Linked DNA regions of Homo sapiens. The protein of the gene in region 2 interacts with the protein of the main gene of each other region in a biochemical or structural test. Each region holds a gene or a part of one and is shown on either strand. Other genes may lie near its edges.

Region 1 (3,500 bases), on a different chromosome or scaffold from region 2:
ACTAGAGAACCAACCTGATTAATTTAGAAAAACAACATGATAGCAGAAATACAAACCTTGAATAATGCCTCTGTCTATTCTTAATGAAATGATGTACATGTGGTTTAAACTAATCCAACTTCAATTTTCCCATCTTAAAAACAGAAGTAATAACTACCTTTTAAACTTTTGTAAGGTTTAAGCAAGCTAACATACATGAAAGTGAATGCTACTTGCCTGACACAAGCTAAATGTGCCATTCATGGAAACAATTGTTTTCTTCCTCCTTTGAACATCTGAGGAACTGGAGTTACCTCTTTGCAATCCTCCATAGTTGCTGTTGTGCTTGAATCATGTAAAGTTTCAGGAAACAACGCCTGTCCTTCAACCCAGTGTTCCCCATAAAAGTTCTCTTTAGCTGAGTGTCTTGCAATTGGTCAGGAGAATATTTAGTGATGCCTTCAGGCCTCTCATCTTGTATGGGGTGGGTGATTACATTGCTTGGTTTCCAGAGTCTCTCTCAATACAAGGTTGAATCTTGTAGGAACTATATTGCCCTTGCCCATTGAGAGTCTTTCCCATCACTCTACCACTTCACATGAATTTCCAGAGGTAACTTTCTTCATCATTTCACCTATATATGCATTATTTGTTTTCTAAAAAAATTATCGAGTCTCCATCATGTGCCAGGAAGGCCTTCCCAACTGTATCTGCCTGGCCACCTGAAACTCTGCCTGTGGCTCAAAAGCAAACACTCCTGACACTATATTCTGTTTCCTGCCTATTCTGTGGCTTCTTGCTTACAGCCTGCTGTCCATCTCCCGTCCTACTCTTGCTTCCCTGCTTATCTGTCTTGTCTCTATGTTCCAACTTCCATCACCTTTATTAACCTGGTTTCATCTGCTGCTAAATGAGCGCCTGTTATAGTTTTGGCCATCTACAATGTTCAGGAAGATTGGTGAATGCAAAGTTCATAAATTACGGCTTCTGGGAGTTATCACAGCCACATTGTTAGACTCAGCTGAGTGTAGTGCTGCCTTAGTGAAAGTCAGTGATATGGATTAAGAATGTTAGTTGTAACAATGAAATGGAAGATGATTCTGGAGAGAGCAGAAGCCCAGTGCCATCTTTAACTGTCCCAGAAATCCTCACGGTAGAGGGACAGTTGTAGAGGACTTTATAGTTTGTGATTTCCAAAACACCTTAACTTTCATGATCTCATTATATCCTCAAAACACCTTTATGAGTTTAGTTTTGTTATCCTTGTTTAAAAGAAACTGCATGGATCTGGGGTTTGAACACAGGCGTGACTCAAAGTAGAACATTCTTTCTGCATCATAATTTCTAAGCCAAAAGTAAACACAAAGCAGACAACAAAAGCAAACTTTGAGATTCCCATTAAAAGTATTCCTACATAATCAAAGATTAAATATTTTAAACAAATAAAAGGTAACATTTTCATTGAGTGAGTACTAGCCTCTTCAAAGGAGTCACCTTGAAAGACTATAATTGTATTGCAGTAATGCTACTGTTGTTTAAAATATTCTAAGACTCTTATTTTGAATTTCTTTGTATATTTTTGAGAATATTCTTAACAAGGGCAAAGATTTAACCTTTAAGGAAAAGCTCTCATCTTTCAGCATAACTATCTTGAAAGGAAATCTCATTTGGGCATAAACATTCTGGCATATTTGTTAAAACTCGTCTTATAATTAAAATTCTAAATTACAAATCTACTGTCAGCACATCCTTCAGAAAAGATGTATCCCAATGATTCCTGCCCCTGATGATAAATTAAACTTTCAATACTATAAAGTATTTTTCTTTATAAAATATAAAATGTTTCCCATGGGTTTTTCCATGTTGCTTTATTCCAAACGCTGTCTTGACCTGAATATTCAATAGGAAAACTGAAGACAAGTCTTAGATATGATAATGGAAGAAATCTCTCTTCTGCAATAACAAGGACAACTCTGATGTGGACATAAGAATTTACAATCAAGAAACCTGGCAGGGTTCAGTTTCCAGGTTTGTCACTAGCAAGCAGTGTGAATTTGAGCATGTTACCCACCCACGTAGGGGCTGACTTCCTTGATCTGCCAAGTAAGAGGTTGGCATAGATTACTCCAATGTTCCCTCCAGCTCCAACCTTCTATAATCTCAGCCCTACAGTTTCCAGAGTTAAATGATTCTAGACTTTAAAAGGCAGTTTTATACTTTCAGATAATACAAACAGTCTCAGTTAACAATTAAAATTTTATGGAAGAGAATAGGATTAAACATTCCTATAGCACATCTCAGAAGGCCTAGTTCAGTACCCTTTCACACTATTTGGAGACATCTCAGAGGTCTTTGGTTTGTACTTTTGAGGTGACAAAATTCATCATACCAGTTCTACTAGATGAAGTATTACACTGATTAAGAAATTATGGTTGCCATCATTAATGACAATACTTCTCAGAGGCAGAGGCTCAAGTGATTAATTTATTTCTCCAAAATAAAGTACCATTTTTTAATTGACTAACTTACTGGAAATTTTGTTTCTTAGCTTGCTGTGTGACAGGAATTATTCCTGGTTCTGGACATATGGGAGTGAATACAAAAATAGTTCCTGCCTCTCTTGATTGTACAGTTCAGTGTATTTTTTGTTTGTTTAAGCTCCTCAGCTATCTTTATAAAAAATGGGAGGAAAGATATGAGGAATAAGCAAATAAATAAATTTGAAAATAAGGAGCAGAAAAAATGAAGTATGGAGGGCCAATGAATGGCACATATGGTGCAGATAGAAATGACATACCATTGCAAAAGTTCCTTTTGAGAAGAGTAGAGGAATATGAATAGCAAAAAAAAGGATAAAAGCAGAAGGATTAGGCCATTCAGGTGACAGAAAAAAAAGTGAGGGAGAGAGAATACTGGGAGAGATGAAGGATAAATATAAAAGCGAATGGCAGAGAACAAAAAAAAATGAAGGAGAAAAGAAAGAATGCAATCACAATTTTGTGAAATAACTCAAAAAAACCAATTTTGGGGGGGGGTGCAAATTTTGTCTCATTAATGTTTGTAACCATCTCCTATTCTCCCGGAGCTAGCACTTAGTAGGCTTCCAGTAAAATTTTATCAACAAATAAATGGGTAAGTCATTGAACTTACTTGTGAATTTGAGTAAGAAAGGATGCTATAAGATATGAAAGAGCACTATACACTGGGAGGATACACAGGAGAAAGGTTGAATGAACTGGGAATGCACTTGTTGGTTACACACATGCAAGAGGACATGTAACTCCTGCAAACACTGAAAGAGAATTAACTGATAACTGATTGGCTATTTTTCCTTTTACTGGACCATTAGTAATATCCATTCCACTCATACTTAGACAACAATTCTGAATGAAATTTGCACACACACAACACACACACACACCCCACCTGTGATGCATTGAAGTAGTGTCATAAATTGCTCTAAAAGTTTACTTTTCTACCTTGTTAGCTATTTTTATACACCTTTGCACAGAAGTATATTA
Region 2 (3,500 bases):
GGACTGCAAGAGCCTGGGACCTTCTCCCCCTCCCCACTGATTACTTCATCCTGTGGGTCTCAGCTCCATGATTGCAGAGCCTTTGCTCACCTTCCTGACTTGAGTTAAATTGTTGCTATAAATGTTCATGCCACCAGATCTCTCTCCATTATAGCACTTTTCCTAGTGGCAATTTTGCAGTTAATTAATGTAATTATTTGTATTAGTACCTGTCTCCCGGCTACACTGTAAGCTGTGTGAAGGCAGGGTCTCTTTTTTAAAAAAACTTTTTCTAAGTTTTATTTTTTTTTCTTTTAATGTTTTATTTTGATACAATTCAGACCCATAGGAAGGTTGTAAGAATAAATCAAAGAAGTCCCATAAATTCTTCACCCAGATTCCCCAAACATTACCATTTTATTCTTTTTATTTTATCCCTGTGTACATATATATCTATCCTGAACCATTTGAGGATTATTTATCAATGCCTCCTTTCCCCCTACATATATTTCCTAAAAGCGATGATATTCCGTAACTACAATACAAATTTTAGAATCAATAAATTAATAGTGATACAACATTGTTTAATCTATAAACCTCAAGTTTTATATACTTTTTTTTTTTTTTTTGAGAGAGAGTGTCCCTCACTCTGCCACCCAGGCTGGAGTGCAGTGGTGTGATCTCAGTTCACTGCAACCTCCGCCTCCTGGATTCAAGCAATTATCCTGTCTCAGCCTCCCAAGTAGCTGGGATTCCAGGCGTGTGCCACCATGCCCGGCTAATGTTTGTATTTTTTGTGGTGACAGGGTTTCACCATGTTGGATGCTGGTCTCGAACTCCTGACCTCAAGTGATCTGCCTGTCTCAGCCTCCCAAAGTACTGGGATACAGGCCCGAGCCACTGCGCCCGGCCTAGATGTTAGGTTTTGCCAGTTGTCTTAGTGATGTCCTTTTTTATAGCAAAAAAAAAAAAACTCTTATAAATGGGTTGCGTACGGTTGTCATGTCTCGTTAGTTTCCTTTAAACTAAGACAGTTCCCCAATTGTTCTTGGTCCTTCAGGACCTTGACTTTTTTTGTTGTTGTTGTTCCAAGATGGAGTCTCGCTCTGTCGCCCAGGCTGGAGTGCAGTGGCTCAGTCTCAGCTCACTGCAGCATCCGACTCCTGGGTTCAAGCAATTCTCCTGCCTCAGCCTCCTGAGTAGCTGGGATTACAGGCATGTGCCACCACGCCCGGCTAATTTTTTGTATTTTTAGTAGAGACGGGATTTCTCCGTGTTGGTCAGGCTGGTCTCCAACTCCCGACCTCAGGTGATCCGCCCACCTCGGCCTCCCAAAGTGCTGGGATTACAGGCGTGAGCCACCATGCCCAGCCAGACCTTGACGTTTTTGGAAAGTACAAGCCAATTATTTTGTAGAATGCCCCTCACATTGAGTCTGTTTTAACTCACCATTTTGTCCCCAGTGCCAAGCACAGTCCCTGGACCATCAAATGCACTCAGTAAATATTTGTTGAATGAGGAGAGGGAGAGATGGAAGGAGGTGCAAGGGGAAAAGTCAGCAGGTTTTCTGCTTTCTTCCAGCCCCACGCCTTTCCCTGCTGAGTGATGTGGGGTTTTTTTTGTTTTGTTTTTGTTTTGTTTTTTTTGAGATGGAGTCTTGCTCTGTCACCCAGGCTAGAGTGCAGTGGCGCGATCTCGGCTCACTGCAACCTCTGCCTCCTGGGTTCAAGTGATTCTCCTGCCTCAACCTCCCAAGTAACTGAGATTACAGGTGTCCACGACCACGCCCAGCTAATTTTTTGTATTTTTAATAGAGATGAGGTTTTGCCATGTTGGCCAGGCTGGTCTAGAACTCCTGACCTCAAGTGATCCACCTACCTCGGCCTCCCAAAGTGCTGGGATTATAGGCATGAGCCACCCCACCCGGCCTGGATGTTGTTATTTAGTTGCAGTCATACTGTATACAGGTTTGAATCCTGCTATTTTTATAACAAAGCTTTCCCCAAAAAAGAGAGGCTTCCTGAGAAGATAGTGAGCCTGCTGTCCTTGCAGATATACAAGCAGAAGCCAGATGATGGTTTGGCAGGGATACTGGAGAGGCAAATGGAATGTTTGATGAGGGGTGAGACTCATCAGGCTGGGCGTCCCTGCTAATCATGGGTAGACTTCTCTAACTGCAGCACTGACTTCACAGGCCTAGGCCCCCAAGAACAGTGCAACTAGAATTTATCATCCCAACCAGAACAATTTGAGAATAAAAAGGGGTCCTATTAATAATTGCACATGACTGACGGGTCTAAGCCGGGACTGCCCTAGGTAAATCCGGACGTGTGGTCACGTCCGGATTTAAGAGTGACTTCGAGGTTGAGATCAGTGCAGGGTGAGCCAGCATGGAAAACCCTCTAGCACTAGGAATCTTCTACCTGGATAAAGACAAAACTAACCTCTGCATGGCCTGCAGGCCTGATGTTTGTGGCTTTGGTCCCCACACCTCTGTGGTCCCACCTCCAGTAGGATGCCACTCCCAGCTTTGTGCCTGCCACACCGGCCTTTTGTCAGCTCTCACCTCACTATGGTACCTGTCTGCCACAAGGACTGGCAGAGTCTGGAACGTCACTCACATACCCTGGCTGGATGGAGGAGCAGGGACAGAGTTTATGATAGATGGACAGGGAGATGAACAAGCCAGCTGTGCTTCCCACTGACCAATTTCTAATAGAATTTAAGAGCCAGGGTGTGTAAGCAAAGAAGGGCAGGAGGCGGGAGTCACCCTAGACCTTATCTTCTTTCCTCTAGTGCTCACACTTCCACCTCTTCTTCCTGCACCAACGCCCACATCCCTGTTCCAGCCCTAGTTCTGAGATGATGACTAAGTCACTGACCTTTGGCAAAGGCAGGGAAGCAGGTGGCATTGGGGACCCAGGCAGAAGAGGATGGGCATTGGATGGACAGTAGATGCAGACAGGGACTTGGATGCAGAGAAACCAGGCAGGAAACCAGCATCTAGGGATCCCAGTAACAAGGTCACTACAGGGCCATTTATCAGGAAGTCTAGATTTGTAATATCAAGTGACCAGACACTCGGTCAAGGGGTCAGGCTCTGGGATCCATACAGTCTGGTTCTTTAACTTATTTTCTGCCTAGAAGAAAATACAAACCTTGCCTTCCTGGATTACAAATTATTATAGGATGAAAATGTGAAGATAATGGAGCTATTTTCTGGGAAGCATCCCAGTCATGTGAACTTTAAGAACACTGTCCAGTGCAGTCGTGTTTTTATTACTCTAGGCATCAGCAGCTTTAATGGAAAAGCCAGTTAGTAAAGGAATGTTCCGGTTCCTAGAATGCAAGATACTAGTACTGCTGAATGTTGGAAAGATTTTCTGGTTAACTGTGTTATTAGATTTTACTGCTTAAAAATGTACTTTCAGCCTGGTGCGGTGGCTCATGCCTGTAATCCTAGCACTTTGGGAGGCAGAGGCGGGTGGATCACCTGAGGTCAGGAGTTCGAGACCAGACTG
Region 3 (3,500 bases), on a different chromosome or scaffold from region 2:
CCAGCCTGGGCAACAAGGGCGAAACTCTGTCTAAAAAAAACCACAAAAAATCAAACAAACAAAAAGAAGAGTTTAATTCTCTTAGTCAGCCCATGTACTACCCATCAACTGGAGGGGGAAATATCAGAAAATTCAGGGTCTTCTGGTTAGCCACTATTTCTGCCTTTGCTAAACATACCTCTGTTTTTGTATATTTTCCATACCCATTGCTAACCTTCCCCTCACTTTGTCTTCTTTTCAGGATCACTTCCAGAAGTTCCTTCCAACAGTGGGGGGACAGCTGGGCACAGCTGGTCAGGGATTCTCATACAGCAAGAGCAACGGCAGAGGCGGCAGCCAGGCAGGGGGCAGTGGCTCTGCCGGACAGTATGGCTCTGATCAGCAGCACCATCTGGGCTCTGGGTCTGGAGCTGGGGGTACAGGTGGTCCCGCGGGCCAGGCTGGCAGAGGAGGAGCTGCTGGCACAGCAGGGGTTGGTGAGACAGGATCAGGCAAGTACACTCACCCAAGAGTAATGTGTTTGGTCCCTAGAGCAGAGTTGTCCCAGGAATGATGTCTACGCTGAGTGTGGGGAGCAGAGGAGGTCAGTTTAAATATCTTAATATTAAATATAATAATATCAGTTTAAATATCATAAATATCTTGGTGAATTACCTGGGTCCAGGAGTATATAGAGATGTGTCTATTCTACCCAGAAGCCTTGTTTTTCAGTTACTTTCCTGGCTTTTCGGATTCAGTCACAGATCTGCCCACAGACTATCATTATGCCACAAACCTTATACAATTACCAGGATATTATATCTTTAGTCCCTGGCTCTTGCAATTTCCCTAGTGTAGGGGCGTGGGATTACCTTTCATTGGCTACTAAATGCTATTATTTGACTGAATTTTCTCTCCCATGGCTACCAGGAGACCAGGCAGGCGGAGAAGGAAAACATATCACTGTGTTCAAGACCTATATTTCCCCATGGGAGCGAGCCATGGGGGTTGACCCCCAGCAAAAAATGGAACTTGGCATTGACCTGCTGGCCTATGGGGCCAAAGCTGAACTTCCCAAATATAAGTCCTTCAACAGGTAGGGGTGGTGAGGAAGGAACCAGATGCATTCTAGTGTGAGGCACTGTGTCTTTAGTTAGGATGGAGACTAATTCAAATGTTTCAGAAGGAGGCTAAGGAGAGATGGCAGGGATATGGGGGTCCTAATCAAAGGCCCTGCTCTTTTCACTCTATCTCAGCTTCATCATAGCAGTGTGATGAAGGAAAAAATTTGCTGGGAGGCAGGATTTGAATTCTAGCTCAATGGTCATTTATTAGCTGTGTAGGCATGGGAAAATCACTCTACCTCTGAGCCTGGGTTGCTTTGAACGTTACACTTATTTATTTTTTGTCTTTTTTTTGCTTCCTTTTTGTGGAGAATGGGGTCTCGCTATATCGCCCAGGCAGGTCTCGAACTCCTGGGCTCAAGCTATCCTCCCGCCTCTGCCTACCTGAGACCTGGGATTACAGGGGTGAGCCACCGTGCCCGGCCTGCTTTGAATGTTAAATGCGAATAACATTTTACATGTCTGAAGGCCTCTTGAGGCTCTCTTCCATTCAAGGTTAGGATGCCATTATTCTCCCTGTAATATGATTCTATTTCCTTATACTTTTTTCTTTTCTTTCTTTCCTTCTTTTTCTTTGACTCAGTTTTGCTCTTGTTGCCCAGGCTGGAGTGCAGTGGCATGATCTCAGCTCACTGCAACCTCCGCCTCCTGGGTTCAAGTGATTTTCCTGCCTCAGCCTCCCTAGTAGCTGGCATTATAGGCACCCGCCACCACGCCCAGCTAATTTTTGTATTTTTAGTAGAGATGGGGTTTCACCATGTTGACCAGGCTGGTCTCAAACTCCTGACCTCAGGTGATCTGCCCGCCTCGGGCTCCCAAAGTGCTGGGATTACAGGCGTGAGCCACCATGCCTGGCCACCCTGCTTTAGATGGCTCTAAGTCTCTGTTCTTTTGGAATTAGGCTTCTCTAGCCCATGGAGAGGAGGTCTGTGTGAAAGGATAGGGAAGAGCTAGAAAGGTACTCTTGTATTTGGTCCTAAGGAGCCTGGATTTTCCAGGCAACAATAATTACTCTTAGCCAGGCTATCCACTGTCCACTAGGGTTGGAGAGAGGGGGTCTCTATATTGCAATTTTTTTTTTTTTTTTTGAGACAGAGTCTTGCTCTGTTGCCCAGGCTGAAGTGCAGTGGTGCAGTCTCGGCTCACTGCAACCTCCACCTCCTGGGTTCAAGCAATTCCTATACCTCAGCCACCTGAGTAGCTGGGATGACAGGGGTGCGCCACCATGCCCAGCTAATTTTTTTTTGGGGGGGGGGTGTTTGTATTTTTAGTAGAGATGGCGTTTCACCACGTTGACCAGGCTAGTCTCAAACTCCTGGTCTCAAGTGATCCACCCACCTTGGCCTCCCAAAATGCTGGGATTACAGGCGTGAGCCACCGCACCGCACCTGGCCTTTCTACATTGTCATGTAAGGTGACCTCAGGCCCTTGGGTCTATAGTATTTGGGGTCACTTTCTCTGAAATGCTGGTCTGGGTCACAGCTATCCAAGAGTCTCTAGTACACACTAGACTCCTTTTCTCATTATTAGCTTTGGGGAAACAAGCTAACCAGGAAGGCAAAATGGGATGCTAAGGAAGAAGAAGGAGTACAGATGCAATCCCAAACTAGAATTCACAGACTTCCCTATTCTCAAAGAGGGTAGCATCTCATGATAAGGCTCTGTTTCTTTTATTCTGATTCTTAATTAAATAATGTGTCCCCTTCTCAGGACGGCAATGCCCTATGGTGGATATGAGAAGGCCTCCAAACGCATGACCTTCCAGATGCCCAAGTTTGACCTGGGGCCCTTGCTGAGTGAACCCCTGGTCCTCTACAACCAAAACCTCTCCAACAGGCCTTCTTTCAATCGAACCCCTATTCCCTGGCTGAGCTCTGGGGAGCCTGTAGACTACAACGTGGATATTGGCATCCCCTTGGATGGAGAAACAGAGGAGCTGTGAGGTGTTTCCTCCTCTGATTTGCATCATTTCCCCTCTCTGGCTCCAATTTGGAGAGGGAATGCTGAGCAGATAGCCCCCATTGTTAATCCAGTATCCTTATGGGAATGGAGGGAAAAAGGAGAGATCTACCTTTCCATCCTTTACTCCAAGTCCCCACTCCACGCATCCTTCCTCACCAACTCAGAGCTCCCCTTCTACTTGCTCCATATGGAACCTGCTCGTTTATGGAATTTGCTCTGCCACCAGTAACAGTCAATAAACTTCAAGGAAAATGAACTCATTCTTCCTTTGATATTTGAGAGCAGATGAAAGCCGAGGCTAACAATGCACAGAGACTAATTAAAGCCAAATACTAAACATTAATTATGCAAACTTTAAGACAGATCTGAGCTCCAGTTGCTTACACACCTACACCCATACGCACAAAACCACATTCATAGTTACTTACAAAGACG
Region 4 (3,500 bases), on a different chromosome or scaffold from region 2:
TTTTATTCTTGACACAGGAGAGAGGCTTATGGCATGTTAGAGAGGCTTAGAGCTGAGTGTGGACTTGTTGATCAGTTTGATCCAGCTGAAGTCAGTGTGGCCCGAAGCCCACGTGAACTGAAGGATAGATAGTGTGCAGAAAGACTTGCAGGAGTCCTGTGCACACATCCGCATGGAGCTGTATGCGCTTATCTGGCCAGCAACTTTGTACCAAGGCTCACTCTCACAGGGACCTGCTGCTCTCAATGCTTTCGGGTCATTATACTTTCCTGTGAAAGTATGCTAGCTGACATATGCTTACAGGAGTCACAGTTTTCTTACAGGTTTGGTTTAAGTGAGAGATCAACCCAGATTTTTGGGACATACCCACCCACACAGTGAAAATCGAGCAGTTTGTTTCATGATTCACATTGACATACATTCAATGGGTCACTGAACAGGCACCTCTTTCTGAATTTTATTCTACCTTTGCAAAAATAACATGATCAAAACATGCGAAATGACTCATTTTTGAACACAAGACTCCAAGGAGAATAAGAAAACTAAAACTTCAAACTTATATAGTGTGTTTTCCTTTCCACCTGTAAAATATCACCCCTTCTACATAGTCTTGTAGTTTGGGTACCATAAGAAACCATGATTATAAAAACTTCACATCTTTTCAGAAGAAGTTTCTTTTTGAGTCATGCTCTTTTAAACTTTAATCTGTGGAAACATTTCCCAAAGTGTGTTCTTTATAATATTAGATCTATACAGCACTGGTGGGTGTTACTCCAAAATGCTTCAGAGTGGTTCTGATCACGACTGAACGTAATTAGTGGAAAAGATTCTTTATGATAGAGCTCCTCAGAGACTTGGCTGTGAATGTTCCCAATGTATGTTGTGATTCTTCAAGAGGGGAATATAGCAAGTCGTTCTCAGTGACTTCTTTAAAGTACGGAAGACTCTTTTCTCAAGGTGCTTTGCATAAGCCTAATGTTCTGAGGAATATACTTGGGGAAACTAATTCCTAGGACTGATTTCACTTTTTTGGGCCGTAGTTTAAATGTCAACATGTGAAAAGGACTGTGGCATTTTTTTGTCTCTTTTTGGATTCTTAGGAACTTTTTTCTTTCACTTATGGTCTCTTTGGCTTTTATCTTACTGAAGCAAATGATTTTTAATACATAAGTAATACTTTTAAGTCTGATGTAAACCAGGTGATGTTTATGGGGTGGATGAAAACAACACTGAGTCGACATTTGGGAGGTTTGGGAAGTGCCAGGAATTACTAGTAGACCAAAATTGATTTTAACATTTTATCCTTTCTTTAGCTTAAAGACTCCACCTGTTCCCCCTGACCCCATTAAAATTTATAGGTTCTCTCCTTTTTCTCTGAACCAGAAAAAGAAAATTTTAGCTTACCTGAAAATAGTTAATCACAGAGCTGAACTCTTTAACCAAATATAGTTTCAAGATGTTACACAGGCTAATTGTGAGTCCAGGATCTTTTAATCAGTCCGTTTACTTTCTTACCTTTTGTTTTTTGAAGAATTTGGAAGTCCTTCTCTTTACCTATATGTTAAAGCTCTCTCATAATCATATGTTAAGACTTAATACAGAATTTATCATAATTGTTTCCATTTAATTTACCTGATAAAACTTGATAGAAATACCTAAACGAGAAATATCATGTAATGTTTCATAGGGCCTAGTATAAATAAGTGAAGTATTTGTGCTCACATTTGTTAAGTAGATGTTTTTTAAGAAATGTTTTGGATTTCTTTTTTTGTATTAGGAAAAGAATGAAAGATATCTTCTACTCTTCCCAAATGTTTTGCTAATGTTGTCTGCCAGTCCTAGGATGAGTGGCTTTATCTATCAGGTAAAACACAATTTAAATTTATATTTTATTGTGGATCTGAGGATAATTTCAAACTGGCTTTGAATTTTGTGTTAAATATTACGTGTATCTATCTGTGTATGTGCTGTGTGTGTAGTGCTGTATATTCAGATATGGACGTACAGCTCCTGTTTGTGTTTCGTTGTGACTGCAAGCATATCCTATGTTAATTTCAAAAAAGGAAAGAAGTGTAAACTGTAGAGCAACCTCATAAGGACACAGACTACTGTGGCACAAGTCAGTCTCTGTCATTGCCTTCTGTCGTTTCATGCAAAATACCTTGCTCCTCCTTGCTATGGTTTTATTCTGTGAAATTGGTTCAAGTAGGGCTTGTGGGTTAGTGGGGTAGTGTAGACTAAGATCTTGTGTCAGTGGCACGGCACCGCCCAAATGCATCAGCAAACAGAAAGTGATGTAAGGGTGTAAGTAGCAGTGTGTGATCGTTGAACCTTTTTAATTTTTGTTTCCCTGCTTCTCTTTGAGAAAATGTGACAGCAGATTTGGGAAGGAGGTGCAAGGGTGAGCAGGGCCTTTTCTGTTGCGACAGTGGTTTATAGTGGTGGTATATGAAGGAGCTGGTATTTTCGCTGTCTGTCTAGTAGATGCACTTGGCAGGTTTCATTCTTCTTTTTCTGGGAAGTTACAGAGGCTCATATCCTTCCCATCAACTTTCTGAGGACTGGCCAGTCACCACGTAACCACTGCAGCAGAAGCCGCCACTTCGTGTTCTCTGGGTTGCATTTCATTGTAGCACGTGTTGTTTTGTGTTGGCGCAGCAAGGACGTTCAAGATCCCTAAGCAGACACTATGCCCTCACAGAGGCTCTGCCGACACCCAGAGAGGACTTGTGGCCATACGCTTACACCAACACACGTGCTTTAGAATTGGTGAATCACATATGTAGGAACAGACTCAGGAAAGTGAGGCTGTAGTTTGTTAGGCCACTGCTGAAGAGAGGTGATCTGTGGCTAGGATAGTGCCCACTACAGTTTCCCCCAAACTAGCAGCTACTTCTGTGTTAAATGACCTTGATAAACCTAAATCTCTGTCCTTTCTGGTCAGCACTATCTGGCTTCCGATTTTATATCCCCAGAATCTCATTCCAGTGGCTGGAGGCAGGGGCCTTCTCTAACCTAAGGAGAGAAGAGGTTGTCACTTGTGGCAGGCTTGAGTCTCTGCCTGTGTGGCTGGTGCTTACACTGGATTTGCCCTTGATGTGTTGACAGACTGCTGGAGCTCATCTCAACAACAGGATTTTATTTTTCCATTCTTAGCACAGTGGTGACCCATGGTCTCTGTATCATTGGTATCCGTTTCTACCATTAGAACACTGGCTTTGGGGGATGCCAAAAAGTGTTCGGTCCAGCCACAGTCATAGTGTTCTATACACCGATGTTCAGAGGGGCTAGGTTAAACACAGTTGTGCGGTTTCATTTTCTGTAGGACTTACAGCTGTTAAAGTACTTATATGCATTACGAATCTTGGAAAGGAGTTCACAGTGTGTAGCATTTTTTAAATACGCTTGGCCACAGAAGTGTCCAGCAGTCTCCTCTTCCACCGGCCATGCTTTAGGATGAGATTTCTCAGCCTGGGCACTGCTGACGTTCTGGACTGGAT
Region 5 (4,113 bases), on a different chromosome or scaffold from region 2:
CTCGGGAATTTGGGCCTCTGATCCTCCTGGCCACACTACCCACCCCCGCACCTCCCCATACACACACACACACACACACACACACACACACACACACACACACACACACATACACACAGGACTTAGGACAGATGTTCACGGTCTGATTTCCAAATCCTCCTGGGCCTGTGTGGGGGTGGGGAGAGATTGGCAGATAGATCCACCGACTCTTAAGACTTAAGACCAGATATTCTGACCCCTGTCACCCTCTTCCAAGTGCACCATGCACTTGAGTGCACCTTGAGTCTCCAGCCTCTCAAGGAACCGGGAGATCAGGCCATCAGCGTCTCAGCCAGCAAAGGCCTGAACCACCAGTCCCTTATAACCCTGTAAGTCCAACCCCCACTCCCAACCCCACTCCCCCATTTAGGGACACGGAGTCTGAGCCTAAGAACAGTGGAGAATCTGAATGTGGACCCTCCAGTTCTTACAGGTCCAGGAATGTCAGATCAGGGTCCCAGCCCCCCAGCCCTCCTTCAGGCTGCTCGGGGTCCCTCCCACCTGCTCGGCCAGCTGCGCAGCGTGGGAACGCCCCAGCTGGGCTGCATGGAGCCGTCAGGACAAGCTGCGCGGTTCCCAGCCTCCCTGCCTGCCCCGGCCCGGCACCGCCGCCTCCCAGCCGTCGCCGGGCAACCAGGCCGAGGGGCCCGGCCGGCCGAGTGGGGAGAGGGGTTGGGCTGGGACTGCGGGGTCCTGGGAAAGGAGGGGCCGAGGGCCTGGATTCCTGGGTCTTAGGACGTGCTGTAGTTTGCAGCAATAACAAGGGAACAGAGGGATATTTTGAGGAGGGGTTTTGAGGCTGGGGGAGTCGAGGTAGGGGTCCCAACTGTCCCCCAGGTATCGGTGTGCCCTCTTCCCGACACGCAGGCCCGGGGGAGCCCCGGACCCCGCATCCCCCAGGGCGCGGAAACTGGCGAGGCCCCAGGAGCTCCCATTTATAGCTCAGTTTCCACTGAGCGCAGTCCCTCTAGGACCTGGGCTGAGCAAGTTTCTTCCACTCTCTCCCTTCCCTCCTCCTCACCCCTTGCCTGCCCCTCAACCCCGGCAGGGCGCAGGTGTCCAACCCAGCCGGGACCCCCTCCCTCCTCGAACCCAGGTGTTCCGGCTCCCAGACCCCAATTGAGCTGGGGGCGCCCACCCGCCGGGGGATCCCGCCCTGCGTCCCCCATTCATCCGCGTCTCAGCCGCGGGAGTTTCTCAACGGGAAGAGGGCGGAGCTCCCGGGGGGCGGACCCGGGCGGGGCGAGCGGGATCGGGCCCTCTTGGGGTCTCCCAGAGACCCAGGCCGCGGAACTGGCAGGCGTTTCAGAGCGTCAGAGGCTGCGGATGAGCAGACTTGGAGGACTCCAGGCCAGAGACTAGGCTGGGCGAAGAGTCGAGCGTGAAGGGGGCTCCGGGCCAGGGTGACAGGAGGCGTGCTTGAGAGGAAGAAGTTGACGGGAAGGCCAGTGCGACGGCAAATCTCGTGAACCTTGGGGGACGAATGCTCAGGATGCGGGTCCCCGCCCTCCTCGTCCTCCTCTTCTGCTTCAGAGGGAGAGCAGGTACCGCACGAGGGGAGCGGAGGAATATGGGGTGGGGGTGGGGAGTTGCTTGCGGGCTGCCTCTTCACTAGCGAGAAGGGAGCTGGGGGCTGGGACTCCTGGGTCCTGAATGAGGAGGCCCCTGAAGGTGCTAAGCTCAGCCCTGCTGCCCCGAACTCTCCTAGGCCCGTCGCCCCATTTCCTGCAACAGCCAGAGGACCTGGTGGTGCTGCTGGGGGAGGAAGCCCGGCTGCCGTGTGCTCTGGGCGCCTACTGGGGGCTAGTTCAGTGGACTAAGAGTGGGCTGGCCCTAGGGGGCCAAAGGGACCTACCAGGTAAGAGTGTTCTCTCCACGCTGGGACGGGCTGGCTAGGGGGAGAGTTGCTGGGCTCGGCTGTACCTGCAGTTTCTATTTTGACATTTTCAAGTTTGGGAAATTGATGGGCTCGGGTAAACATTTAGGAGTCCTGATTTTTGAGCTGCTTCTTTGGGGGTGACCCACGGAGTTTGGGAATTATTATGTTATTGCAAAATAGTACATAGGCCAGGTGCAGTGGCTCACGCCTGTAATCCCAACGCTTTGGGAGGTTGAGGCCAGAGGATCGCTTGAAACCAGGAGTTTGAGACCAGCCTGGGCAACATAACAAGACCTTATCTCTACACAAATGTATATATATATTTTAAACAAATTAGCCGGGTATGGTGGTGTGCATCTATAGTCCCAGTTACTCAGGAGGCTTAGGTGGTAGGATTGCTTGAGCCTAGGAGTTCAAGGCTGCAGTGAGCCATGATCAAGCCACTGCACTTCAGGCAATGGTGAGACCCTGTCTCAAAAAAAAAAAAAAAAGAGAACATAAATGCAAAAAAGTACAGTAAATATAAATGGAAGATTTACCAAATAAAATAGACACACACAGCCAATACCCAAGTCCATTGCTAGCTCCCCAGAAGACCCCGTGTTCCTTTCCCCTATCATAGCCCCCTCCCCCTCACTCCAGAAGTAGTATCTAACCTAATTTTTATGGCAATCATTTTCTTGCTTTCCTTCCTGACTTTATTACCCCTAAGTTTGCAGTGACTCTGGGTTGGGAGGGAGTTAGAGTCTCTCTGGGCCCAGTACACACTTTTTAATAGTGTCTTACCACCAAATGTGTGGGCCAGTTTTCTGGTGGAGGATGTCTGGGGATGGAGGCCTGAGGCCAGGATTTCAGAACCATGGTGTGCTGACTGCCTTCTCCCTGACTCCAGGGTGGTCCCGGTACTGGATATCAGGGAATGCAGCCAATGGCCAGCATGACCTCCACATTAGGCCCGTGGAGCTAGAGGATGAAGCATCATATGAATGTCAGGCTACACAAGCAGGCCTCCGCTCCAGACCAGCCCAACTGCACGTGCTGGGTAAGGACCTCGCCCACTTGTCCCCTGGGAGCCCAAGAGGGCAGCCCGTACTAGCTGTGAGTAGCAGAGCCCAGGGAGCCCAGGGGCATGGTCAATTGGAGCTGAGAAGATCAGGATCCATCTCTGACCCCAAATCCACCTTGCAGTCCCCCCAGAAGCCCCCCAGGTGCTGGGCGGCCCCTCTGTGTCTCTGGTTGCTGGAGTTCCTGCGAACCTGACATGTCGGAGCCGTGGGGATGCCCGCCCTACCCCTGAATTGCTGTGGTTCCGAGATGGGGTCCTGTTGGATGGAGCCACCTTCCATCAGGTCAGGTCCAAATTCCTGTGCTAGCCTTTGCCCATTGAGGGAAACTTGGGTTACACTCTGACCACAGGCTCATCCAGAAGAGAAGAAGACATGGGAGGGCAGAGGTTCATGGGTTTGGACTCTTGAAATATGATGCAGGGTAAAGATTCTAGGGCCAGACTACCTGGGTTCAAATTATGTCTCAGCCACTTGCTAGTTGATTGATCTTGAGTAAGTTAGTTAACCTCTCTGTGCCTCAGTTGCCTTATCTATACAATCAGGATAATAGTAGCATGCATGTCATAGGGTATTGTGAGAATTAAATAAATAAATACCTATAAATGCCCAGAAGAGTGACCAATACATAGTGAGCACTATATAAGTAAGGCAAGCTTGTCCAACCTGCGGCCCATGGGCTGCATGCAGCCCAGGATGGCTTTGAATGTGGCCCACCACAAATTCATAAACTTTCTTAAAACATTATGAGACTTTTTTGTAATTTTTTAGCTCATCAGCTATCATTAGTGTTAGTATGTGTGGCCTAAGACAATTCTTCTTCCAATGTGGCCCAGGAAAGCCAAAAGATTGGACACCCCTGATGGGTAGATGGCATTATTATTCTTATCCTTCCCTCCAGACCCTGCTGAAGGAAGGGACCCCTGGGTCAGTGGAGAGCACCTTAACCCTGACCCCTTTCAGCCATGATGATGGAGCCACCTTTGTCTGCCGGGCCCGGAGCCAGGCCCTGCCCACAGGAAGAGACACAGCTATCACACTGAGCCTGCAGTGTGAGTGCAGCTGGCCCTGGGAAAGAGGGGTGTGGGGCCCTGACTCCTGGGTATGAGGAAGGAGGGGACTGTGGCCCTT
Region 6 (3,500 bases), on a different chromosome or scaffold from region 2:
TCTCCTGACCTTGTGATCCACCCGCCTCGACCTCCCAAAGTGCTGGGATTACAGGCGTGAGCCACCGCGCCCAGCAACAAGTGTTTCAATACTCTATGTATTGTATTATTTTATTGGTCACATTTATTTCAATTCTGAGAACTTGGATACCTTATGAGCCCCTTCTTTCTAACAGTACTCATACCTACCACTTCCGAAGGAATTATTTCTATTCTAAAAAGAGCCATTTCTGAGAAATATTTGACTTTTGATAGACTTTATCTTGTTCTTTTTTTTTTTTTTTTTTAGGTGGGGTCTCACTCTGTCACCCAGGCTGGAGTGCAGTGGCACCATCTTGGCTCACTGCAACTTCTGCTTTCCAGGCTCAAGTGATTCTCCCACCTCAGCCTCCTGAGTAGCTGTGACCACAGGTGTGCGCCACCACACCCGGCTAATTTTTTGACTTTTTGATAGAGACAGTGTTTCACCATGTTGCCCAGGCTGATTTTGAACTCCTGAGGTCAGGCAATCTGCCCACCTCAGCCTCCCAAAGTGCTGGGATTACAGGCATGAGCCACTGCACCTGGCCTATGTTGTTCTTTTTTTATGTTGTGGGCTTAAATACAAAAACAAAAAAGTAGTTCTTTCCAATCAAAAAATTATTGTTGAGCATAAGGCTTTATTTTGGTAAGAACTTTTTGGCTAAAGTACGCCCAGACTACAGTACCACTTAACTGTAATATAATGCATAATGTGAAAATGCTGGTTTGACACAATGTCTTATGCCTGTAATCCCAGCATTTTGGGAGGCCAAGGCGGGTAGATTGCTTGAGGCCAGGAGTTCGAGACCAGCTTGGGCAACATGGTGAAACGCCATCTCTACTGAAAATACAAAAAATAGTCAAGTGTGGTGGTGGGCACCTGTAATCCCAGCTACTCAGGAGGCTAAGGAAGGAGAATTGCTTGAACCCAGGAGGCAGAGGTTGCAGCGAGCTGAGATAGCGTGCCACTGGTCTCCAGCCTGGGTGACAGAGCAAGACGCTGTCTAAAAAAATAAAAAAAAAAGAATATACTCTGTTAATTGTACATTATATGGAACCACCAAAAGGCTAATACCAAAGAAAATGAATGATACCAACTGGGAGACTAAGAAAGGGGTTTCAGAGGCAGCATATTTTGCTCTGGGAGTGAAAAGAATCACCACATTTTGTAACATGCCAAAACTTACCCCTGTACTTGGAAATGAATGAATGAAACTATTAAGGAATAAATGAATGAAATATGGAACTGTGTCCCGTGTACCTTTCAAGGCTCAAGATATATTTGATATTATTAGTCTAAACGCTACCAAAAGTATCTCTAATCTTGAAATTCTCCATATTCTTCCATAATTTAAGACAGCACTTGCCTTAGCTTCATTATTTTAAAATGATAGCTTAGAGTGAAACCTACTTGATATATAGATGAAGGGAGCATATGTAAAGGATTATATTTCTTAAGTCTTTCATCCGTTATACATTTAGAAAACTTGATAGGCATAGATGTGTGTTCTTTGCCACTGTGGCTTCCTTCTCAGGGTAACTGCCATTCATTCACCAAACTCCTGTTGTGTGCATCTTTCTTAGATGAAAATTATGGCTGGCATTATGTGATCCCTGTTCTTAAGATGTTTGTGGTCTAAATGGAGCAAATAAGGCATTCACATGTGAAAAGTTAAATAATATAACAAACTAAAATAGATGTCATAAGTTTTATAGTGCCAGTATGATAAGGGAATTTGGAAGAAAGAGAGACTCTTATAAACTGGTGTCGTTACAGAAGGCATTTGGAAGAGGTAGAATTTGATCTGAATCTTGAAATGTGAATAGGGAACTATCCCATTTGGTGGCATAAAAATGATTTTATTCCTATAAAAGGATCCTATCTGAGCATTCGATATGGTGTGGTTTTCTGGTGCTGCTGAATCTTAAATTAAAAATGCTTTAAAATTTGTGCTTTGGTGGATACATATTTCCATGGACAAGAAGGGGTGAACTTTGAAAAACAAAGATTCATTACTGAACAGGTAAGAGTGATGATTTTTGTATTCCTAGGAGAATCAGACAAAATACTAACAGCTTTGTTGTTTTTGTTTTAGACAGACTACTCTGATAGTTTATATTTTGTCTTTTATTGGAATGGTTATCTTTACTTTCACATTGGACCTTAGATATATTATCATCGTGTTTGTTACTGGAGGGGTGCTTGGGTAAGTATCAGATGTGTTTAGGAGGAATGATAGCATGCTGTTATAATTCTGAAGTATTATTACTCTGGTCTTTAATTTTTTCAGTTCATCCAAAGTTTCTTCAATATTTTAAACTTTAAAGGATTCATTCTATGCATATAAACATGTAATTCTTAAGAACTATTAAAAATTATTTAAAATTGGTTTTTGGTATACCATAGGTAAAAAATGGATGAGCCTTACTTAATCTGTGTAACTTTATTTGGTTACAATCAACTTATAAAACTAGAAGTAAATTTTTCTCAGAAAAAAATGTGTATTTGTTGCTTCCAGTTCTGTAACCTTGAGCTGATTGGTCAATGATAATAGTTCCTTACTTTGACATAGCAACTTCAAAATATTCACTTATTTGGTCATTAGAATAAGCCCGAGAGGCAGAATGATTGCATCAGTATGTGATTGTGACTTTCTGGTAGTTCTTTCTGTAATTCTGGATTTATTTTCCTAGCTTCTTCATGACTGGTTACCTCCCTTTGGGTTTTGAATTTGCTGTTGAAATCACTTACCCTGAATCTGAAGGTACTTCATCTGGTCTTCTTAATGCTTCTGCACAGGTAAACCTCTGATTTCTCTAAACCTGAGATGATTATTATACCAGATATTCTAGTGAGTAATGAGTTTGACCATGGTTTTATTTGTTGTTGTTGTTGTTTTGTTTTTTGGAGACAGAGTCTTGCTCAGCCATCCAAGCTGGAGTGCAGTAGTGCAGTCATGGCTAACTATAGCCTCAAACTCCTAGGCTCAAGCAATCCTCCCCCCTCTGCCTCCAGAGTTTTTGGGACTGCAGGTGCACACCAGCATGCCCAGCTAAATTTTTTTTGTTATTTTTTGTAGAGATGGTGTTTTGCCATGTTGTCCAGGCTGGTCTCGGACTCCTGGGCTCAAGCAATTCGCCTACCTCAACTCCCAAAGTGCTAGGATTACAGTGGGTGTGAGCCACTGCACCCAGCCTGACCGTGGTTTTTGTTTTAACAATTCAACTTTTCAATGAATGTTTCTAGAAACCAAATCATATAACCAAAATAAGAAAAGTTCTGGTGAAAACTTTATACTTGCTTTAAATAATTTAACTTAATAACGAATGATTTTTCTTATTGTATTTTAGATATTTGGAATTTTGTTCACATTGGCTCAAGGAAAGCTCACATCAGACTATGGTCCTAAGGCAGGGAACATTTTTCTCTGTGTCTGGATGTTTATAGGCATCATATTAACAGGTAAATTAGGGCGTTTG
Region 7 (3,500 bases), on a different chromosome or scaffold from region 2:
ACCTTCATAAATAAAAAACACTGTTTTTTCTCATACATACTAAAATAAATAGCTATCAAAATATTTATGCTTCCTGAGAGATCTGTGGTAGTTAGCAAAGGTTTTCTGCAAGATTTTGGATAACATTTTTTTTAAAAGTAAAGTGCTATTTTGGCCAGTTGGTAATTCATTCAACAAATACTTACAGAGCCAGGAACTTTCCAGGCATTTGATGTACATCAGTGAACAGAACATACCCAAACTTTTATGGAGCTTACATTATATTTAGATCATATGTTATAGTATGGAAGCTCCGGCCAGGCATGGTGGCTCACGCCTGTAATCCCAGCAGTTTGGGAGGCCGAGGCAGGTGGATCACGAGGTCAGGAGTTAGAGACCAGCCTGGCCAACATGGTGAAACCCCGTCTCTACTAAAAATACAAAAAATTAGCCGGGTGTGGTGGCACATGCCTGTAGTTCCAACTACTCAGGAGGCTGAGGCAGGAGAATCGTTTGAACCGGGAGGCAGAGGTTGCAGTGAGCTGAGATCGCACCACTGCACACTCCAGCATGGGTGAAAGAGCGAGACTCCATCTCAAAAAAAAATAATTAAAAGCTTCATGAGCTCTTCTAAACAGCCTTTCCCACTTCCTACCCCATTTCTATTAATACAACTAGGCCAATTCTCAGTATTTGCAAACATCAAAGATTTTGCCTTTTCAGAGAAGGTTTGGAAATCCTTACTCTTAAGTATCAGAATTAACGTCACATGCGTTGTGTTCTGGGAAATTCTCATAGGTGAACTCAGTTCATGGATTCAGATGTCTTTTAAGCATTATGCTATGCAAGAAGCAAAACAACAGTTTGTTGAATATGATAAAAACAGTGATGATACTGTGACTTGGGATGAATATAACATTCAGATGTATGATCGTGTGATTGACTTTGATGAGAACACTGCTCTGGATGATGCAGAAGAGGAGTCCTTTAGGAAGGTGAGTTCATGTGCACAAGCTGTTTCTTTTGATCATGTCAGTTCACTTTACCTTCCTGCATGAATGAGCACATTGAGGGCCTGAGGTCATAAGCTGGATTGTCTTGTTCTCTAGGAAATCACCTGTTCCACTTCAGCAGTCATTTTGATGGTTTCCTTTCTGGCCAGATTTAGGACTCTTATTCTAAATTACCTACATGATCCTTCTATCTGTTTTTCTCGGCTGCATCATTTAATTGTCCTCATTTCCAGAGTTGCTTTTTAAATGTGTTTTGAATGAGTATCTCAATATTTTAATATCATTGAATAATCAGTTTTATCTTTATTAAGAAGGCCATTATGGCCCATTCCCATTTTTAAACACATAGTTTTATATACTCACTTAAAAAAACTGCGGTTTCCACATCTGTGGATTCAAACAACTGAGAATCGTAAGTATCCAAAAAAGTAAGTATTAAAAAAAAAAAAACTGTGTCTCTATTCAACATATACAGAACTTTTTTCTCTTGATTATTCCTTAATATAGTATAACAATGATTTATTTCTCATTTAAGTTGTAATTTATATTATAAGTAATCTAGAGATGATTTAAAGCAGAGGTCCCCAACCTTTTTGGCACCAGGGACCAGTTTCATGGAAGACAATTTTTCCACGGGACAGTGTGTGGCGGGGGGGTGGGGAATGGTTTTAGGATGAAATTGTTCCACCTCAGATCAGCAGGCATTAGGTTCTCCTAAGGAGTGCGCAACGAAGATCCCTCACATGTACAGTTCACAGTAGGGTTTGCACTCCTATGAAAATCTAATGCCACCCCTGATCTGATAGGAGGCAGAGCAGAGCTCAGACGGTAATGCCTGCCACTCACCTCTTGCTATGTGGCCCAGTTCCTAACAGGCCATGAACCAATACCCGTCCGCGACCTAGGGATTGAGGGTCCGTGATTTAAAGTATTCAGGAAGATGTGTGTAGGCTATGTGCAAATACTGCACCATTTTATATCAGGGACTTAAGCATTCTCAGATTTTGATAGGGAGGTCTTGGAACCAATTTCCCAGGAATGTGTGAGGGAGGACTGTGTAACAAATTGACCATTGTAACCATTTTAAAGTGTACAGTTGAGTAATATTAAGTACATTCATGGTGTTGTGCAACCAATCTCCCCGACTCTTTTCATCTTACAGAGTGGAGACTCTCTACCCATTAAACAATAACTCCCCATTCCCTCCTCCCACTAGCTCCTGGCAACCACTGTTCTACTTTCTGTCTCTGAATTTGGCTACTCTAGGTACCTCATCTAAGTAGAATCATACGCCGTATTTGTCTTTGTAACTGGCTTATTTTTACTTAGAATCCTCAAGATTCTTCCATTTTGTAGCATGCATCAGAATTTCCTTCCTTTTTAAGGCAAAGTAATATTCTGTTGTATGTACAGGTTGAGTATCCCTAATTCCAAAATCAAAATGCTCTTAAATATGAAACTTTTGGAGCACTGACACGACACTCAAAAGAAATGCTCATTGAAGCATCTTGGATTTGGGATTTGCAAATCTCTGTGGGATCCTGCTTTCCATTGGTTTGGGTATATACCTGGAAGTGATACTGCTAGATCATACGGTAATTCTATTTTTAATTTTTTGAGAAACCACAGTACCATTTTTCATAGTGAGTACACCCTTTAAAATTACTCCTTTTTTTTTTTTATTTTTATTTTTTGAGACAGTATCTCACTCTGTTGCCCAGGCTGAAGTGCAGTGGTATAATCTCGGCTCACTGCCTCCTGGGCTCAAGCAGTCCTCCCAGCACAGCCCCCGAAGTAGCTGGGATTTCAGGCTCAAGCCACCACGCCCATCTAATTTTTGTATTTTTTGTAGAGATGGGGTTTTACCATCTTGCCCAGGCTAGTCTCAAACTCCTGAGGTCAAGTGATCTACCCACCTCAGCCTCCCAAAGTGCTAGGATTACAGGTGTAAGCCACGACACCTGGCCCCAAATTACTCATTTTTTGAAAATTTAGTATCTGTGTGAGTTCTAATGTGTCTCATGGTTTAATTTGTTGAAATATATGCTTCTTAAGCAGAGCTGAGAAAGACTAATTTTATTTAGGAATTAGGAACTTTTTAACACTTCTAGGAAGTCTATTAAACTAAAAGTATATCAACAGAAATGACTGTGAGCTTGAGAAATTGATATATCAAATACTTTTGTATTTCAAAGCTAATTTTAAAGAATTAAAATCTTTTTTATAGGTACATGATAGTTGTATTATACATACTTACAGAGTACATGTGATATTTTGATATCACACAAACGTATATTATAATGATCAAATCAGGGTAATTAGAGGATCACCAAGAATTTTTTTAAGATAGTTTTTATGTGTAGAAAAACATAAAAATAAAATCAAACATGCTGTTGCAAACTGTCCCAAAATATTAGTCAAGGGTGCTTGGAAAATATTCAAGGCTCTTCTGTTTCTTAACTTATCCTGTTTTGGTATATACCTTTTAATTTTTGTTGTGGCCATAAT

Evidence for each region.
Region 1: the proteins of PTPN3 (region 2) and SLCO1C1 interact in a test that uses a peptide from one of them, tested with the Homo sapiens proteins (one large-scale study listed by IntAct).
Region 3: the proteins of PTPN3 (region 2) and MYOZ1 interact in a test that uses a peptide from one of them, tested with the Homo sapiens proteins (one large-scale study listed by IntAct).
Region 4: the proteins of PTPN3 (region 2) and ARHGEF7 interact in a test that uses a peptide from one of them, tested with the Homo sapiens proteins (one large-scale study listed by IntAct).
Region 5: the proteins of PTPN3 (region 2) and KIRREL2 interact in a test that uses a peptide from one of them, tested with the Homo sapiens proteins (one large-scale study listed by IntAct).
Region 6: the proteins of PTPN3 (region 2) and FLVCR1 interact in a test that uses a peptide from one of them, tested with the Homo sapiens proteins (one large-scale study listed by IntAct).
Region 7: the proteins of PTPN3 (region 2) and RCN2 interact in a test that uses a peptide from one of them, tested with the Homo sapiens proteins (one large-scale study listed by IntAct).

Annotation. Positions count from the first base shown.
Region 1 is NC_000012.12:20,733,332-20,736,831, forward strand, and holds part of SLCO1C1 (solute carrier organic anion transporter family member 1C1), read left to right. Parts: intron 1-3,500. UniProt on the Homo sapiens protein: Mediates the Na(+)-independent high affinity transport of organic anions such as the thyroid hormones L-thyroxine (T4), L-thyroxine sulfate (T4S), and 3,3',5'-triiodo-L-thyronine (reverse T3, rT3) at the plasma membrane.
Region 2 is NC_000009.12:109,488,308-109,491,807, reverse strand, and holds part of PTPN3 (tyrosine-protein phosphatase non-receptor type 3), read left to right. Parts: intron 1-3,500.
Region 3 is NC_000010.11:73,631,475-73,634,974, reverse strand, and holds the end of MYOZ1 (myozenin-1), read left to right. Parts: intron 1-241; coding exon 242-491; intron 492-909; coding exon 910-1,075; intron 1,076-2,813; coding exon 2,814-3,045; 3' UTR 3,046-3,363; downstream 3,364-3,500. UniProt on the Homo sapiens protein: Myozenins may serve as intracellular binding proteins involved in linking Z-disk proteins such as alpha-actinin, gamma-filamin, TCAP/telethonin, LDB3/ZASP and localizing calcineurin signaling to the sarcomere.
Region 4 is NC_000013.11:111,275,810-111,279,309, forward strand, and holds part of ARHGEF7 (rho guanine nucleotide exchange factor 7), read left to right. Parts: intron 1-1,777; coding exon 1,778-1,864; intron 1,865-3,500. UniProt on the Homo sapiens protein: Acts as a RAC1 guanine nucleotide exchange factor (GEF) and can induce membrane ruffling. Functions in cell migration, attachment and cell spreading. Promotes targeting of RAC1 to focal adhesions. May function as a positive regulator of apoptosis.
Region 5 is NC_000019.10:35,855,598-35,859,710, forward strand, and holds the start of KIRREL2 (kin of IRRE-like protein 2 isoform c precursor), read left to right. Parts: upstream 1-1,313; 5' UTR 1,314-1,522; coding exon 1,523-1,583; intron 1,584-1,747; coding exon 1,748-1,897; intron 1,898-2,810; coding exon 2,811-2,960; intron 2,961-3,106; coding exon 3,107-3,267; intron 3,268-3,883; coding exon 3,884-4,034; intron 4,035-4,113. UniProt on the Homo sapiens protein: May regulate basal insulin secretion.
Region 6 is NC_000001.11:212,885,775-212,889,274, forward strand, and holds part of FLVCR1 (choline/ethanolamine transporter FLVCR1), read left to right. Parts: intron 1-2,116; coding exon 2,117-2,227; intron 2,228-2,714; coding exon 2,715-2,820; intron 2,821-3,371; coding exon 3,372-3,483; intron 3,484-3,500.
Region 7 is NC_000015.10:76,934,749-76,938,248, forward strand, and holds part of RCN2 (reticulocalbin-2 isoform a precursor), read left to right. Parts: intron 1-777; coding exon 778-974; intron 975-3,500.